Linked DNA regions of Homo sapiens: all the other regions are reported to be linked to region 4. The links are microRNA targets in miRTarBase. Many come from high-throughput screens and were not tested one by one. Region 4 holds a microRNA gene; each other region holds the end of a gene's coding sequence.

Region 1 (4,064 bases), not on the chromosome of region 4:
CTATCGTAAGGGCATTTTCCTCTTTTCAATTCACCATTTCCAAAGAAAAAGACAACATTGGTGCTTAACTAGTTCCCGTTCTAATAAAATACTCTAGTGAATACACATTTCACTAGAATACACATTTCACATGGTATGGTTAGTTATTTTTATTTTTTAGGTAACTGAGGTCAAACCATGAAACTTTTATTTCCTTGGTAACTTCATCTTCTATTTTTTAGAATGACAGCAATTCAGCAGGAGCAGGTGGACCAGTGAAAATAACAGAAAACCGATCAAAGAAGACCAGTTTCTTTCGTTGCTCGCTACTTTGATGAACTCTTTCTGAGAGACTGCAGCACACCTAGAGGGCCCTTTCCTGCTTCTCTGAAAGCACAGGTCACCCAGCCTCAGAATCACACCTCCCGGCTGCTGCTGAGAGCACCACTGAACTTAGACCTCTCAACACAGTATGCCAAGTGGATTCCAGCCTCATGGCCTAGCAAAAGAACAGACTCCCTTTTTCAAACATGGAAGCAATGAAGTGGAGACACATGCAGGACCTAACTCGTTTTTTCCTTGTTTTATTACCTGTTGCAGAAGCGGTTATCTTTCTTTTTTACTTTGCACATCAGTGTTAGCCTTTCCCTATTTCAGCACAATCTTAGACTCATATTTGCACACTTTTGTGTCGTGAAGTTCTAGACAAATTTGTACATGTGGCAATGTTAAAAGAGCATTTACAGCAGAGGTTAATATACTAAAATTAAAGGGTATTTGGTCTGGTTCATATGGTCAAATATTACTGCCTTGGTAGCATTTATTTAAGGGCTTTTTCTTAAATAAGAATCATTAAAGTCATTAAAAAAATTTACTGAAATGCCCATCTTGTCATCAAAGGCCACAATTTCTTTATTTCTTCAGATTAAGAGCTTTGCCTCATCCCCGACCTGTTTTCCAGAGTCTGGGTAGCTGAATGAATCACTTTAAAATGATTACCTCTGCCTAATCTATAGAAACTGCATTTGGAAATCACCATAATCTCATTTTTCCCTGGGGTTTGTATTTGCTATTCTTTCCCATGTTTGACTTAAGTGTAATCACTCTTAAGTAATATTTGAACATTATTATCTGTTTCTATTTGTGAACTTCTTGAGCTGAAATTTTACGTGGGCTGAGAGATATACCATTTAGGGTTTTAGTGCAGCATCTAACTGTGATTCTGTCAATAAGGATATGTAATATATTTTTTCTTAGGTTCACTCCTTAGCTGGCTGGTTTAGTTGTAATACCAAATTCCTACCATAATCCCTGTCTACAAAAGTTAGGTTTAGATTTTAGTTTGCGGAAACCTTCCCTATATAGAGACAGATTAACTTGTTGATATAAATTTAATAGAGCTAGCTCTTGGTAATGGTGAAAATAATGAGTTTTGGTTGGTTTTATTTGGCAGATGTTTTTAGAAATAAAAGTACTTAGACCTAGTGCAGCCTCTAGGAAAAGTCTTGCCTTTTCATTAGAGAAAACAGGACCAAGGTTTCAGTTTTCAAACAGCTGTTGTTGATTGTGTAGAACCCAGTTCCATCTGTTTTGGTTCATTGTTACAGAACTTAGTCCAGTCATTTGGGCTAAAGCCAACCAAAAGCTTAGTTGCCTTTCTCAACAAACACTGGTACTGGTATACTTTTGTAGATGAAACCATCACAAGGTATTTAGTGTTAACTTGTGTGCCAAATTCAGATCACTATGTCGTTGTTGCTCTAGCCTTCAGTGTCATAACACAGGGGGGATAAAACAGAGGGGATGAGGGAAATGAATTCTGTTAATAATTATTCTTCCTGGTATGCCTGTTTTGCTTCACAAAGGCTACTATCATGCTGGATAGATAAGAACAGGAGATGGCAGTGGAAAGGGATTGCTTGTTACCACAGAGAATTCTCTTCAAATTAAGATATGTCATTAGAATGCTTGGACCAGTCAATCTTTTGTACTTATTTGAAAATATAGGAACAATTTAGCAGCTGCAAATATGCCCAAGCTATTTTTAATAGATATACTAAACTTATTGTTGACAAATTTCAGCCTCCTTAATTTTTTTTTTTTTGGTAATTACCTATAGGCTTAAAAGTCATTCGTTGCTGTTCTAGTATAATTAGTAGTTCCGTGATTGAAAGTTTATTGTAATTCTACTATCTTCAAATTAGATACATTTTCAAAAGGAAAAGATAATTTTTTAGAAACATCTTAATATTCACTATTTCCTGAAAAAATCCAAGCAGTTAACGCTTTCTGGATGGTAACAAAGTACCTTCTAAAAGATAAGTGCTATGACACCATGTATGAATGTAATTCTCTTAGTAATTTACCTCTGACTATTTGGTGTCTTAACGCTTTGGTTTATATAATCTCAGGGGTTGTCTGCAAACCAAAACTGACATATTCTGTGGTTAGCTTTTATTACTTTTTTTTTTAACAGAATGCTTTGCTTTGGTTATATTTCTTCTTTCTTCTTTTGTCTTATATGGATTAATAACTAGTCTCCATGAACTTCACTTGAAAGAGCCTGTAAAAGTTAGATGAGTCTAAAAGTGCTCTTTGAAGTAGCAGCAAATTGGGAGTATATGCTCTGTTATATAGAAATAAATTGTCCTTGCTATTTTCTTACATTTAGCTTTGCTAGATTGTATATACATTGAGCTAAGACCTTAGGAAATTCACTTTCTGCATGATAAAATGACCCAATAAATATTCCACTTTGCTTAATAATGTACATACAGTGCATTATTTTTTCTATTTGTAGATGAATTTAATGACAGATAATTGTCTGTTCCCCGCTGAAACTGAAGAAATCTAGTTTTTTTGTGAACATTTTTGTGGTCTTATGGATAAGGTACATGAAGATTTTTGCAGCAGTATTAGTGGTTCAGTGGCTGCACTTTATTAATCAGTGTGTTAATTTTTGACAGTGATTGGACTAGACCTTTTCAAATAGAGTCTGAGGGTATCAGACAGTGAAAATGTGCTGTAACTAAGTAGCATGTAAATCAGTTGATTGTAAAACGTTTCGCTGGGAACTTATTTTAGCTATATTTTACTTCAGACAGATTATGATACAATAATCTACCTGTGCATCAGTTAGTAGGTGCTGCAGGGTTTCTTACTATTTACAGAAACATTTTGTGCAGTCTTTGTTATAAATTTTCAGAAGACTATACTCTTTACTTTGAAGGTCTATTTTTTAATTATACCTCATTTAGCTAACTAGTATTCTAATACCTGGTAGAAAAACAGTGAGCCAGCCTTTAAGCATCTAACAAAATTTAGACTCTTTGTTTTGTTTTGAACTGAAGACATCATTGGGAAAGGTAGGAAATATTAGTTTAGGATAGAGCATACATGTCATATCCAGTAGCATAAAAAAAGTATTATCTCCCTGTCTCCATTAATAAATTTAGCTGTGCAATATAGGTGCGTTTTTGCAGAAGTTTCTAGTAAGAGATTATAACTCCATTTTACAGGTTCTGAATGCTCAGAGTCTATATTAAGGCTTATAAAGTTTTTCCTGTGATCAGTAAGTGACACATTTAAGCAGACATTCTTTTCAAGTTCATGACTTAGATTCCTTTACAAATTTAGTTCTCAATCTTTAAAAACCACATTTCATTATGTTGGTTAATTATTATAAATTTTAAGCACTCATTTCTGCAATCAGGTTTCTCAGAATTTTTTTTTTTTAAACAGAAGAGACATTCCTTTTTCCTTGTTACATCCAAGGGGGGCACAGGGGTGGGTGGAAAGGAATGTCTAAAAATGAAATCCCTTGATATAGAGGGACCTAGACGGACAGGATATGCTAAAATAATTTCAAATTCTAGCACAATTTTAGAGTAGAATAAGTCATTTTTTTAGACTAATAAAATTAATGGCTGTCATGTTCACTCTGAAAAAAATCTAAATGACTGAAATGTACAGAAATAAAAATTAGCAAACAATTATTCTAGGGATATTTTCAGATTTTACTTCATTTCTTGAAATGCGTGTGCCATATGCAATTGCATTTCTTGTGCCAAGAAACTAATAGAACT
Region 2 (4,064 bases), not on the chromosome of region 4:
ACCCTGGAGGTGGAGGTTGCAGTGAGCTGAGATCACACCACTGCACTCCAGCCTGGGCAATAGAGTGAGACTCTGTCTCAAAAAAAAAATTTTTTTTTTATTATATCTATTGATATAGTTAATTTCAACATGCTATTAAGGACCTGATAAAGAAGGTTATTAAAATTGTGTTTTCTCAATGTAGATAACAGTATATAGTGTTCTCTTAATAGTTAAAAATAAGCATATGTTCATATTTGCATAGGAGATTTCTAGAAAGATACACAAGAAATGGGAATTAGACTTGTTATTGTCTTTTTATTCACTGAATTTTTATAATATGCATATGGTACTTTTAATCTCCTTTTCTTTAATTCTGCTCAATTTAAATTTTCTAATCTTAGATTTCTGGTGTTCAGCAAATTCAGTTTTCATGATCTGAAGAAATGATGGAATGGGGAGTGTAGAGAAATGAGAGTCTGTATGATTCTGGAACAGAGACATCAGAAGGAAAGACTGGTGAAAAGATGTATCTTTGTATATTAATAGCTGTAATGTAGCTTCCTGATGCTTGACTAATTGAGGTGTTAATTCTGACTTGAGAATCTTTTTCATGAATGATTTTAAAGAAAAATTTGGATTTTAAAGGTATTAAAATATTTTTGTTTTGTACGAGAGTTTGTTGCTCTGTATGACTCCTGTATGCATTGTATATTGCAATTTATTACTGTCAGAGATTTGTAGACAGTTTCTTATTTTCATATTGAATCATGTTACTTTTGTAATTCAAGTAAGCGGCTGGGTTAATTCATGATGTTTGCCCTTTTAATAAAATATAAGGGTAGAGTTCATTTTGAATGCAAGTTGCCTTTATTATAAATTTGAGTTTGTCTTGGTTATACCTTGCATGATAACCTAGCTAGATTTCTAGCATTTGCTGTATTTATTAAAATTATTATTTTTTTGGTAAAACATTAATAGTTTAAGCAGCATCATTTTTTTAAAAAATGTAATTGAATAAGTGTGAATGCAGAAGCAAATATTGTCTGCCCTGTTAAACTTGGTGCCCATTAACAGTGTTTACACTGTTCATCGTGCCTGTTAATGTAGTTTTAGTTACTGGAGCTTTTTTAAGACTAGATTTGGTTTTGAGTTACATTTTTAAGAATGTGGGAATATATTTAAGTTTAATGTAGTCCTAGTGCTCTTGAAATGGTGCCCCTTTCATTTGGTACATGATTTTTTTTCAAATCATATCTTCAAGTACTATAGTATTCTCTTACAGAAGAGGAGTTTTATAGTCTGATGGTAAATGTCTTCATTTTACCTTTTTAATTGAAATGTCAAGTTTCCTGTTACACTATGGAAACCAAGAAACATCAGACATCATTGCGTGTACAGACCTTTTGCATGGGTGAGTGGATGAAATGGAGAACAGAGTGAGTGCTGTGAACGGTGTGAAATAGAAGCCAACTTCTAGTATGCTGTCTTCATCTCTGCAATAAACTAAACGTAAATAATGTAACTTTGTATAATTTAGTAGTATGTACTTGGATTGTTTCTTTTTGAAAAGTGAGGATTTGTATTTTCTCATCTATTCTTTTTGGTGTTAATTAACTTGAGGGATTTCTTTTTTAAGTTTTTAATATCAAAAATTGCTATTGTATAGTTTGCCTAAAAGGAAGTTGGAGTGAATATCATCTTTGAAGGACACTCAAATTTATAAGGTAGAAGCAATTTCCCAGATATAGGCTGAACAGAAACATTTACTTTGCCAGAAGGAGCCTTTAGGAGTATATGTGGGCTAATCAGAGGTTAATAATGTCCTCATCTCCTACTCTCCATTTAAAAAACAAACTTCATTGTAGTAAATTCAAATAGGAAAAAATGGGGGAGTAGTTAAGCAAAATCAACAGTCATCCTACTATGTTGAAAGAACCAATGTTAATATTTTGATAAATATCATTTGTCCTTTTACTTTGCTAAATATGTATATTTTTATAAAAATGGGCTCATATTGTGCATACCATTTTGTAACCTGCTTTTTTCACTTAACAATATATTGGGAACATCTTTTCCAGGTCATGCATAGTCTTCTGCATCATTTTTATTGGTTTATTATTCTGCTGTATGACTCAATCATAATTCATTTAATCTTCTATTGGATATTTTGACTATTTACATCTTTTCACAGTTATAAACAGCACTTCACTGAATCCCATGTACATCCATGACTGTTTTCTTAAATTCTTTGAATTGCTGGGTTACCAAATATGCAAAATTTTAAGGCTTTTGATACTTCGTTATGAGTGTATTTTTGAGATATTTTCCACTTGATCCAAGCAGTGTGTCACTATATAACTGATAAAAGCACTTGGTCTTTGATTATCAGATACTGTCTCTAAAATTATTTTAAAGATTAATATTTGTTCAAGTAGAGAATGAAGATAAAAAAGGAATTTGAGGCCAGGTATGGGGTGTCTCATGCCTATAATTCCAGCACTTTGGGAGGCCAAGGCAGGCAGATCACTTTGAGGTCAGGAGTTTGAGACCAGCCTGGCCAACATGGAGAACCCCCCGTCTCTACAAAAAATACAAAATTAGCAGGGTGTGGTGGTGCACACCTGTAGTCCCTTACTCCCTGGTGGCTGAGGCATTATCCCTTGAACCTGGGAGGCAGAGCCTAAAGTGAGCCGAGATCGCGCCACTGCACTCCAGCCTGGGTGACACAGCAAGACTCTTGTCTCAAACAAACAGGAATTTGAGTAAATTTTAAATTAGTATATACTACAACAAATTTCCAAACTTCATAATTTGCTAGTAGTGCTAACTAAAATTTTACACCAGGTAAAATCAGGTCACCTTTTTTATGTATTGACTTCATTGTTGGACTTCATACTCTGATGGGAAAGAAAATGGACATTCTGAATGTGTCAGGTGCATAATATCCTAATTTATGCTTGTCAGAGCTGGGGTCTCTGTCTTCCTTGGCCCATGTTGCATTTAACTGAATGTCATGTTTTCTCCTCTGGAACTTCTTATGTATGCAAGCTCCCATGTTAACCTATCATAAAAATGTTTTTTATAATTTTGTAAACATTGCTTTCTTGAGTATCTAAGAGAGAAATGGGTTTCCGTGAGTGAGTTCCAGGTAGTAGAAGGGGACTTAGGTAGCTTCTATCTTAGATAGCTTCTATCTATCCCCTCACTACCTCACTCTAACGGAGATGCTTTAAAATCCTCTTGAGTCCAATGAGGATTGTTTTTTAAATGCTGCCTTCCAAATGTCACATACTTAGATATGACAGTGTTTGAAGCTATTTGTATTTTTTTTCCCCTCCTACACTGTATTATGTGTGCAGTGTTTTCCTTTCTTCAAAAACATGCCTTATTGCCTGTTTTCTGGGTTGTCTTAGTGAGTTAAAGGAGTACCAATTAACTTTAATAATTCTAATTGAATATAGTTATGAGGGCCCAATTAAAAGGACTTCTACAGCAGTAGAAATTAGGCATGAAAAGTGGAAAGAATAGTTTCTCCCATTTGCTAAGAATGAAATCTTGCAATGCAAGATTTTTAAAAAATATTTTCTCTTAAGGAAAATTGTTATTTTATCAACAATATAAACAAGATGATGTTTGTTGCTTTATGTGATAAAATACACTTTAAGTCATTCAAATAAGTAATAATTAGGCAGCTTCTTAGAGGGCTTCAAAAGAAAGTGATACTGGGTGAAATCTATTTTACTAGTCTATTTTAAATGTATTTTTTGGTTTCCCTGAATTAGGCAGCTGATAAATTAATTTACATAAGTTAATAATTTGTATATATTGACCTTAAACTCCTATTAAGTCATATAATGTGCTTGTGAGTTAAAAAATGGAACTCTAACTTTGTTTTTTAAGGAACTATACTACACTGCCTGAAAAATATTCAGTTTTAATTTATGTTTTCTTTTAGAGCTAGAAATGTTACTTCACCAAGTTTAGCTCTCTCTTGACTGGGGAGCTCCAGTCACCCCTGATCTCGTCTAGGCTCCTTATGCCAAGTTCTTTGCCTCCCCCACCCACCTGCCATGACCTTAAAC
Region 3 (4,064 bases), not on the chromosome of region 4:
TTGCTTAAAACCATTCAATAAATCATTCTTGCTTTCTGAATAGATGCCAAAATACTAGGTCAGTGGGGAAGTCACTGCCTGCCTGTCTCCAATGCAATTCTGTGGCTGCCCTAGGAGCCTTGTTTATACTTTTAAGCCATTGAGTTCTCTTTTCTTGTGCTTGGAACACCCTTCCCTCTGGCTCTTATGACCTTCAAGACTCAGGTGTCATGTTTTTGAGGAAACCTACCCTGACAAAACCATCCCTGACTGTACATAGTAACAAGTATTCCTCACTGCATTATCAGTTGGCTTATTATGTCCTCAAATTGTCAATTTTGAGGGCTGGGTTTTGTCCTTTTCATAGGATTATTAAAGAAATGTCACAAAGTGCTTGCCACTGAGCCATAAAGCTTCTTTTAAAAATGTGACTTCAAATCTTAAAAATTGTTTCCAGACAATTAGCTATTTCTGGTTCTGCAAAGATAAATTTTCAAGAACAGAGATATTCTGGTTCTATTAAGACTTTTTTTTTTTTTAAAAAAAGGTCCATGAATTACTGGAGTTTGCAACTTGGAGAAATATAATCATTCACCTGTGAAAATTCTTGTGAATAATGGCAGCTGTGATCCCCAGTCACTGGAGGCTTGATTATAAAACGTTATCTCAATACTTCTAATTAGCATAGGATATTATAAATAGAATTGGAAAAATTCAGCTATTTTGGACAATCAGGAGTTAAGGAAACTGTTTATTTAATGCCTCCTAACCCCTACTATTTGTTTTTGGTGTGGCAAGCTGTGAGATCACATCGGAACAAACTAAATTTTATTTGGGGAAAGTTAGGTTTGAATTGTAGACAATTACCGTATCAGAAAAATTTCTACTTATGATTTACCGGCTAAATTAAAACAGAAAAGCTTATGTGGGACCTTGCTCTATGGGCATTACACTGACAGAATTAGATAGATGGCATTCCTGTAAGACTGTGCCTCCAAATTGGGATCTCAATCAGTTAATATTTACAACTATTTGGAGCAGGAGACTAAATCTCCAAAGCTGAATTGGAAGTTACTTAAGATCCTAAACAATCAGCTGGGGGAAGGGTTGACAGTAGGGATAGTTTGGATTTTGAGGGGAGGGGATGATGGGAAAGCAGAGGGCAGACACCACAATAATTCTGCATTTTTGAACAATGGACCATGAGTTGAGTATCTTCTCCTGTCGTTACACTGGAAAGCTTATTATTTAAGGCTCTAGATACATACTGCCAAATTACTTTCTAAAAGTACACAGGAAAGCCTGTCTTTCTTTCTATGTTAAGTCCTGCTACTTAGGACACTTATTACAATTCGCCAAAAACATTAATTTGCATTTCTTAGGTTACTAGAGGTTGAACCTTTAGAAACTGCCATTTATCTCTTCTGTGAACTACCCATATTTTCTCTCCTTTTCTACTGTTTTTCTTAATATAAAAGTAGTAATAACTGCTGTTACCATTTTAAACCTTATTATTCATTTCCTTGGAGACTATTACTTTGTTTATGAAGTGTTTTTCCAGCCCCAGAATCAAAATGGAATCTATTTTCACAAAAATCCCATTTCTAAGACTAGTTTTTCTCCACCTGTATTAAATATCACATGTCACAGTTAGCACTGGAGGGGCACAGCCAGCAAACCTTTTCGGTTAACAGTCCAACAGTGAAGTTTCACATTCCATTAAGTATCTCACCTGTAGCAGCTCTACTTGGAATCTTACTACACATCCTTAGGGTTGCTTACTCAAGCCTATGTACTTAGTTCCTTGATTTATAATGTTATTCATTAACATTTTGTTCAATGTCTTGCAGCACAACTAGAATAGAAAATATTTGGCAATCTCATGTACATCCCAATTTTATGCCTTGTTTGTTTGTGGCTAATCTGATTAAATTTTTACTTCAAATAAGTCTTTTAACACGGAGAACTAACTACTGGTTCTCATTAACTCTGATTAGCTAGCTGGCTACAGATGCAGTGCATGTTAATTTCTACAGGCACCTTTCTGAATTCAAGTAAAAGTTTTGGTAGACAAGGATTTCCTACTTAAGTATCACTAACATAATATGAATATTGAGTACAAATATTGCTCACTATTTTTGCATTCTTTAAATTGTTTTACTTTGAAAATTTAAGAACTATCAGTAAGTCATTATTAACAGGTCTTTAAGGAGTATTTTGAACTGTGAAAATACAAATCTAGTCAAATTTTGAACACATATAGAGCCAAATATTTCAACAAAACTGCAGTTTAATTTCAGAAAATGTTAAAATATATATTTATACATCAATTTCTGACATACACTTAATGTGTTAGTATACACAAAATGATGCTTTCTTTTGAAACTGTATTTATGAAATGTACATTTTAATTTAAATACTCAGTATACACTGCACTTAATCTGCATGTTGCATTTATTAAATACATTAAAATCTGCAATGTAACAAAACGTTTTCTGCATACGAAATTCAAAACACCATTTTAAATGAACAAAAGATGGCTCACTTTTTTTTTTTTTTTTTTTTACAACTAGTGTATTGTACACTAGCTCAGCTCCACCAAACTACCTGTTCGTTCTCTTTTATTTGACATTGTTCACAGACTAGTACATATTACAATAAGAGTGCTGGATAAAAACATGAGGTACGAAAGTGGTTCAAAGATTATAGGTCATGCAGATCATGCTAGACAGTAAAGAAAATTGTGACTGAGAAAACACTAAATAAAAATACATAAAGAATGTGCATTATAAAAAAAAAAAAAGACAAAAAAAAAAAAACAACAAAAAAAAACCAAACTCCATTACACAGCTTTGCTTCTTTGGTTACAAAGTAGGTTGAACAATTTCACAGCTTTTTATTCCCACCCGAAAAAAAAGTCATACGAAATGTTGAAAAGCAGAGGAATCGTGGCAATTTCTCTTAGAAAGTAGAAACAAATGAACAAAGTTTTCTTCATCAAAATAGCCCAATTATTTATCATATCACAATAACTGGTGACTACCTGTACAGTTGCACTATGTTCTTCATACTTACACTATACAAAATTTACATTCAAGCTGGGTCTTTACTACTGAAAATAAATACCATAAGTAAATTGCCATTAGTGTTAGAAATATGCCAGGATTCTTTTGTTCAATTATTGCCTAAACGTTTTATCTATTAAATGCAATCCTGTCTTTCACTTCCTTTACTGATACTTATAATTATTCAAAAAAATTAAAAAAGTTCTGTGACATTGTTCATGTACATTATGAAAATAGCAGCCCTGTAATAAATAAAACACAAATAAATGAAAACTTATGTAGGCAAATGTTACTGAATCAGAAAGAAAAGTGGCTCTTTAGATGAACTGTTATTTATAATGTGATAGGAAGGCTCAGGGTAAATCCATGGGTAATAGGAAACATGGGAGAGCCACCAAAACTCTTAAAGACCCCACTCATGCGCACCAGGTAAAATGCAGACTTTGCTCGCTTTAATAAACCCCATCTATTATTCTCCTTGTGTACTGATGACATAGAACTGGACATCAACAGCGCTGCATGACATCTCAGAGAGAGGAAAAGCTCTTGTAGAATGATTGTCTAATACTGAAAAGGCCAAACACACAACCAAAGCATGGCTACTTGCTTTCGTATAAAGTGGAAAGAACACCAGTGGCACACAAGGATAGATTGCTTTCAGTTTTTTTCTTAATGAGGCTTAAGAAAGCTTTATGCTGAGGAGACATTCGGCTGCTGTGGAGGTTGCGTTGGCTGCGGAGGCTGTGCTATCACTGCTTGCTGTTGAGAAGTGCTACCAGGATTGGCCTGTTGGGTTGGGAGTTGGGATAATTGATCATTGCTTGAAAGAGATTTTAACAGTGCATTTTCTCGTTCAAGTAAAGAGTTTCTTTCAACTAATTCTTTTATTTGTTCCTTTAAAACTTCCACTTCTTCTCTTACTGCATACATCAAATGGCTTTTCACCAGATCCTGTGAAAAACAAAATTAGGAATGTCAAAAGAGTGAAAAGATAAAGGTGGTGCTATCTGGTTCTGGCCT
Region 4 (4,068 bases):
TATCTCTTATGTTTATTTAGGGAGGAAGTCAGTAGGAGAGGGGTCTTTTGTGTTTGATACTAAGTCTGTTTTGTTTTGCTCTTGCTTTTCTTAATTTTCATTAAAAAATAACATCCAGTGTTTTGATTTCCTCCAGATCTCAGTTTAAATGGCACCCTGTCAGAGAAGCTGTTCCAGACCACCTTCAAATAAAGAGGATTCTCATTCTTCCCTCCTGTTATTCTCTGTCAAGATATCCTGTTCATTTCTTTAACAGAAATAAAATCTGGTATATCTCAGTCTATAATTATTAATACATGTTCATTCTCTGTTGATTGTCTATGTTCTCATCTAGACTGTAAGCCACATGAGAGCAAAATCACATCTGTTTTATTCACCACTGCGTTTCTAGAACCCAGGGATGAAAAAAAATCAAATGGACAAATAATAGTGTATGTTAAGCACTAACTATGAGCCAGATACTGTGTTAAGTGTTTTGCAAGCTTTACCTCCTTTAATCCCCCCAAAAGCTCTATGAAGTCCTTGCTGTGCAATGAGAAAATGGGTTTAGTTTAAGTATCTGACCACGATTTGATCCTAGATTTGACAAGAGATCCAGACTCTTCTATCAGTCTCCTACATTTATCGCAGAAACAAACAAGCTATTAAAAAGCACCAAGATGCCAGGCATGGTGGTGCCATGCCTATAATACCAGCACTTTGGGAGGCCCAGGTGGAAGGATCACTTGAGATCAGGAGTTTGAGACCAGCCTGGGCAACATAGAGAGAACCTGTCTCTACAAAGAATTTTTTAAAAATTGGCCAGGCATGGTGGTGCATGCCTGTGGTCCCAGCTGTTCAAGAGGCTGAGGCACGGGGAATCCCTTGAGCCCAGGAACTGGAGGCTGCAGTGAGCTATGACTGTTCCACTTCACTTCAGCCTGGGTAACAGAGTAAGACCCTGTCTCTAAAAAAAAAAAAAAAAAAAAAAGGAATTATAATAATAATTTTTTTTTTGAGATGAAGTCTCACTTTGTCGCCCAGGCTGGTGTGCAGTGGCACGATCTCGGCTCACTGCAACCTCCACCTCCCGGGTTCAAGCGATTCTCCTGCCTCAGCCTCCCAAGTAGCTGGGACTACAGGCACCCATCACCATGCCCAGCTAATTTTTGTATTTTTAGTAGAGACGGGGTTTCACTATGTTGGCTAGGCTGGTCTCGAACTCCTGACCTCGTGATCTGCACGCCTTGGCCTCCCAAAGTGCTAGGATTACAGGCATGAGCCTCTGTGCCTGGCCATAAAAAATTTTAAAACACACAAAAGAATCCTTCTTAATCCCGCCACCCCAAATCTCTGTATTATGTTAACATCTTGGTTTGTATCCTAGATGGCTGGATGAATAGATGAATGGATGTTTTTTAGTTTTTAGACAAAGGTGGAATCATGACTCTGTTCTTTTGCTTGCTTTTTAAAAGAAACTAGATGAAATACACTCTAAACATCTTCCCATGTCAACAGAATATCATTTTTTTTCTTATCTATTCTTCACCATTCATCCTAAACCCACATTGTTGGCTTCAAGTAAACTCACCCTCAAATAGTAATTATCCCTTCTATTTGCCTATCTTTTTATAGCTTTGATTCCCACAAGGCTGTGAGATAGGCAGGAAAAGGATTATCTCTACTTAACAGATAATTTTAAGAGTTAACAGTTTGTTCAGGGTCATATAGGGTCAAGTAGGAGAGCCAAGATCCAGAGCCCATCTGTTCAATTCCAAAGCCCATGGGCTTTCCATTACATCCCATTGCCTCATACTATGTATCTGATTGTGTGGCACGGACTTAAAAGTTAAGCTAACCTGGGTACCAATCCTGGCTCCAACAATTCCCAGCTATACAACCTTCAAGCAAGTTAGCTAAGTCCCCTAAGCTCAAGTTTCTTGTAGGGTGTGGCGAGAATGACTTGATAAAATTCACATCAAATACTTAACATGGTAGCTGGTGGTTACTGCTGAGGGCTGACTGACCCATTCATGTCCAGTGAGTAAGTCTGACAGGGCTGTGCTCTGGCTTGAAAGAGGTCCTGTACGCTCTGCCAAACCCTAAATTCCTACCCATATTCCCATCCCAATTACAAGCAGAATGAGGACCTGCCAGTGCTACTTTAGACATAGAACAGAAACCTTCCCACTTAGCCTGGTGCATCACGGCAGGAAGCTACAAGACAAAGCCAGGCCCTGGGGCTCCCAGTTAGAGGAAGTGAGAAAAAGACGTGTACCCTGGGAAGAAAAAGGGATGCATTTCCGTTCCCATCCAAGCCTCACTTCCTTAGAAAGACATTTCAGGTAGATTAACACACCATCTCTGTGCTGTTTTCCATATGCCATTTGGGGGGGCATTTTGTGGTTATTTTTAAGAGACTGCACTTGTAACAAAACAAAAAGTAAGCTTTCTGTTTTCCTTTCTGGGTCATGAGCTGGTCTCAACCCTCCAAATTCAACTGTCACTGGAAGTCTTTGTGGAGTTGGAATTTCTATTGGGAGTGGCTGTGAAGGTAGGAAGAACATCAGCAAATGTGGTGATATGGTTTGAATGTGTTCTCCCAAAGTTCTTGTGCTGGACACTTAATCCCCAATGCAACAGTGTTGAGAGGTGGGAACTTTTGGAGGTGACTGGATTGATGTTATTATTGTGGGAGTGAATTTATTTAAAAAGTAAGTTACCCTCCCTCATGTGTTCTCTTGCCATGTGATGCCTTCTATCAGGTTACTATGCAGCAAGAAGGTCCTCCCCAGATACAGCCCCTGATCTTGTACTTCCCACCCTCCAGAACCATGAGCCAAATAAATTTCTTTTCATTGTAAGTTATCCACTTTTTTTTTTTTGAGACAGGGTCTCACTCTGTCACTCGAGCAGGAGGATTGCTTAAGCCTGGGAGGTCGAGTCTGCAGCAAGCTGTGACCACGACACTGCAGCCTTGACCTCCCAGGCTCAAGCAATCCTGCCTTAGTCACCCAAGTAGCTGGGACTACAGGCATGTGCCACCCCACCTGGTTGATTTTTGTAATTTTTGTGTGTGTAAAGACAGATTTTGCCATGTTCCCCAAGCTGGTCTCAAACTCCTGGGCTCAAGCTCAAGTGATCTGCCCATGTTAACCTCCCAAAGTGCTGGAATTACAGGCATGAGCCACTGCACCAGGCCCCAGTTTCAGGTATTCTTATAGCAGCACAAAACAGACTAAGACAGACACACAATGTCATAAAAATGAAGGAGAAGAGGGGCTTAAAAAGAAAGAAGGCACTCTGAACTTTTCCTACAGATAAACTCACTTATATAGGAAACTAGGAAGTTATTCAAAGGGTGATGTAGAGTTAGATAAGCAGATAAGAAACAATCTCCAAGACAGAGGGGAATAATGCAAGATACAGAAATTGTACACAGCATGCTAACATCCTTGTGTGTGATGTAGACTATTTCTGGGCCTGAACACATCTTCTCTAGAAGGTCACACAAGAACCTGGTTGCAATGGGTGTCTCTGGGAAGGAGAACCAGGAAGCCTAGCTAGGAGCCATGGGTGAGGGGAATCTTAATTTCACTTTGTAGCTTCTGATGCTGCTTGAATATTTTATTTTTTCACATTTTTTTAAAGGAGAAAGGATTAGAGCACCTAATAATATGGTGAGGTCAAGAAAGATGAGACAAGCTTATGAGAAGAGGCAGTTTTCAGGTCATTGATGACTCAATGAGAAAAATATCAATAGGATGGCGGGAGCAGAAGCCAGATTGCACCAAACTGAGGAAACAATAAATTGTCATCAAGTGGAAATAGCAGGAACTGGCAACTCTTTCAAAAGTGTGTTTGTATGCAAAGTAAGGTAGGGTAGTAATCATAGCAGTAGTAAGAGTAGTAGTAAGGAGGATTCCCAGGTTTGAGGTAGGGGATTTTTAACATGAAAAAGACATAGCAGGTTTATGCACAAAGGAGAAGGCCAGGATAGAGTCAGAAAGGACAGCTGCTGTTTTTGCCCAGCCAGCAGGCATTGTCTTTTCTTCTAGTGACAGTGGCTTTATTTTTCTTTTTTTCTTT

The links. Region 4 holds the annotated microRNA hsa-miR-1273h-3p (CUGCAGACUCGACCUCCCAGGC, at 2,909-2,930, opposite strand). A microRNA usually pairs through its seed, bases 2 to 8, with sites in the 3' UTR of a target mRNA and lowers its output. Matches are read on the target gene's strand: a 7mer-m8 pairs with bases 2 to 8, a 7mer-A1 pairs with bases 2 to 7 and ends in A, and an 8mer does both.
Region 1: the mRNA of RAB8B is a reported target of hsa-miR-1273h-3p. Seed matches in the 3' UTR shown: 8mer at 2,396-2,403 and 7mer-A1 at 3,681-3,687.
Region 2: the mRNA of NFYB is a reported target of hsa-miR-1273h-3p. Seed matches in the 3' UTR shown: 7mer-A1 at 1,475-1,481.
Region 3: the mRNA of TSC22D2 is a reported target of hsa-miR-1273h-3p. Seed matches in the 3' UTR shown: 7mer-m8 at 3,480-3,486.

What each region holds. Positions count from the first base shown.
Region 1 is chr15:63,263,306-63,267,369 of GRCh38, forward strand. RAB8B (RAB8B, member RAS oncogene family) reads left to right here. Exons shown (of 8, transcript NM_016530.3): 8 at 222-4,064. The coding sequence ends at 314. Among named protein-coding and RNA genes, the nearest start is that of APH1B, 12 kb to the right of the region's middle.
Region 2 is chr12:104,116,089-104,120,152 of GRCh38, reverse strand. NFYB (nuclear transcription factor Y subunit beta) reads left to right here. Exons shown (of 8, transcript NM_006166.4): 8 at 384-3,067. The coding sequence ends at 416. Among named protein-coding and RNA genes, the nearest start is that of NFYB, 20 kb to the left of the region's middle. RefSeq lists an enhancer at 3,392-3,561.
Region 3 is chr3:150,458,307-150,462,370 of GRCh38, reverse strand. TSC22D2 (TSC22 domain family member 2) reads right to left here. Exons shown (of 3, transcript NM_001303264.2): 3 at 1-3,995. The coding sequence ends at 3,735. Among named protein-coding and RNA genes, the nearest start is that of TSC22D2, 52 kb to the right of the region's middle.
Region 4 is chr16:24,202,048-24,206,115 of GRCh38, reverse strand. MIR1273H (microRNA 1273h) reads right to left here and starts at 3,000; the gene lies at 2,885-3,000. All of the region lies in intron 16 of PRKCB (protein kinase C beta), which reads right to left.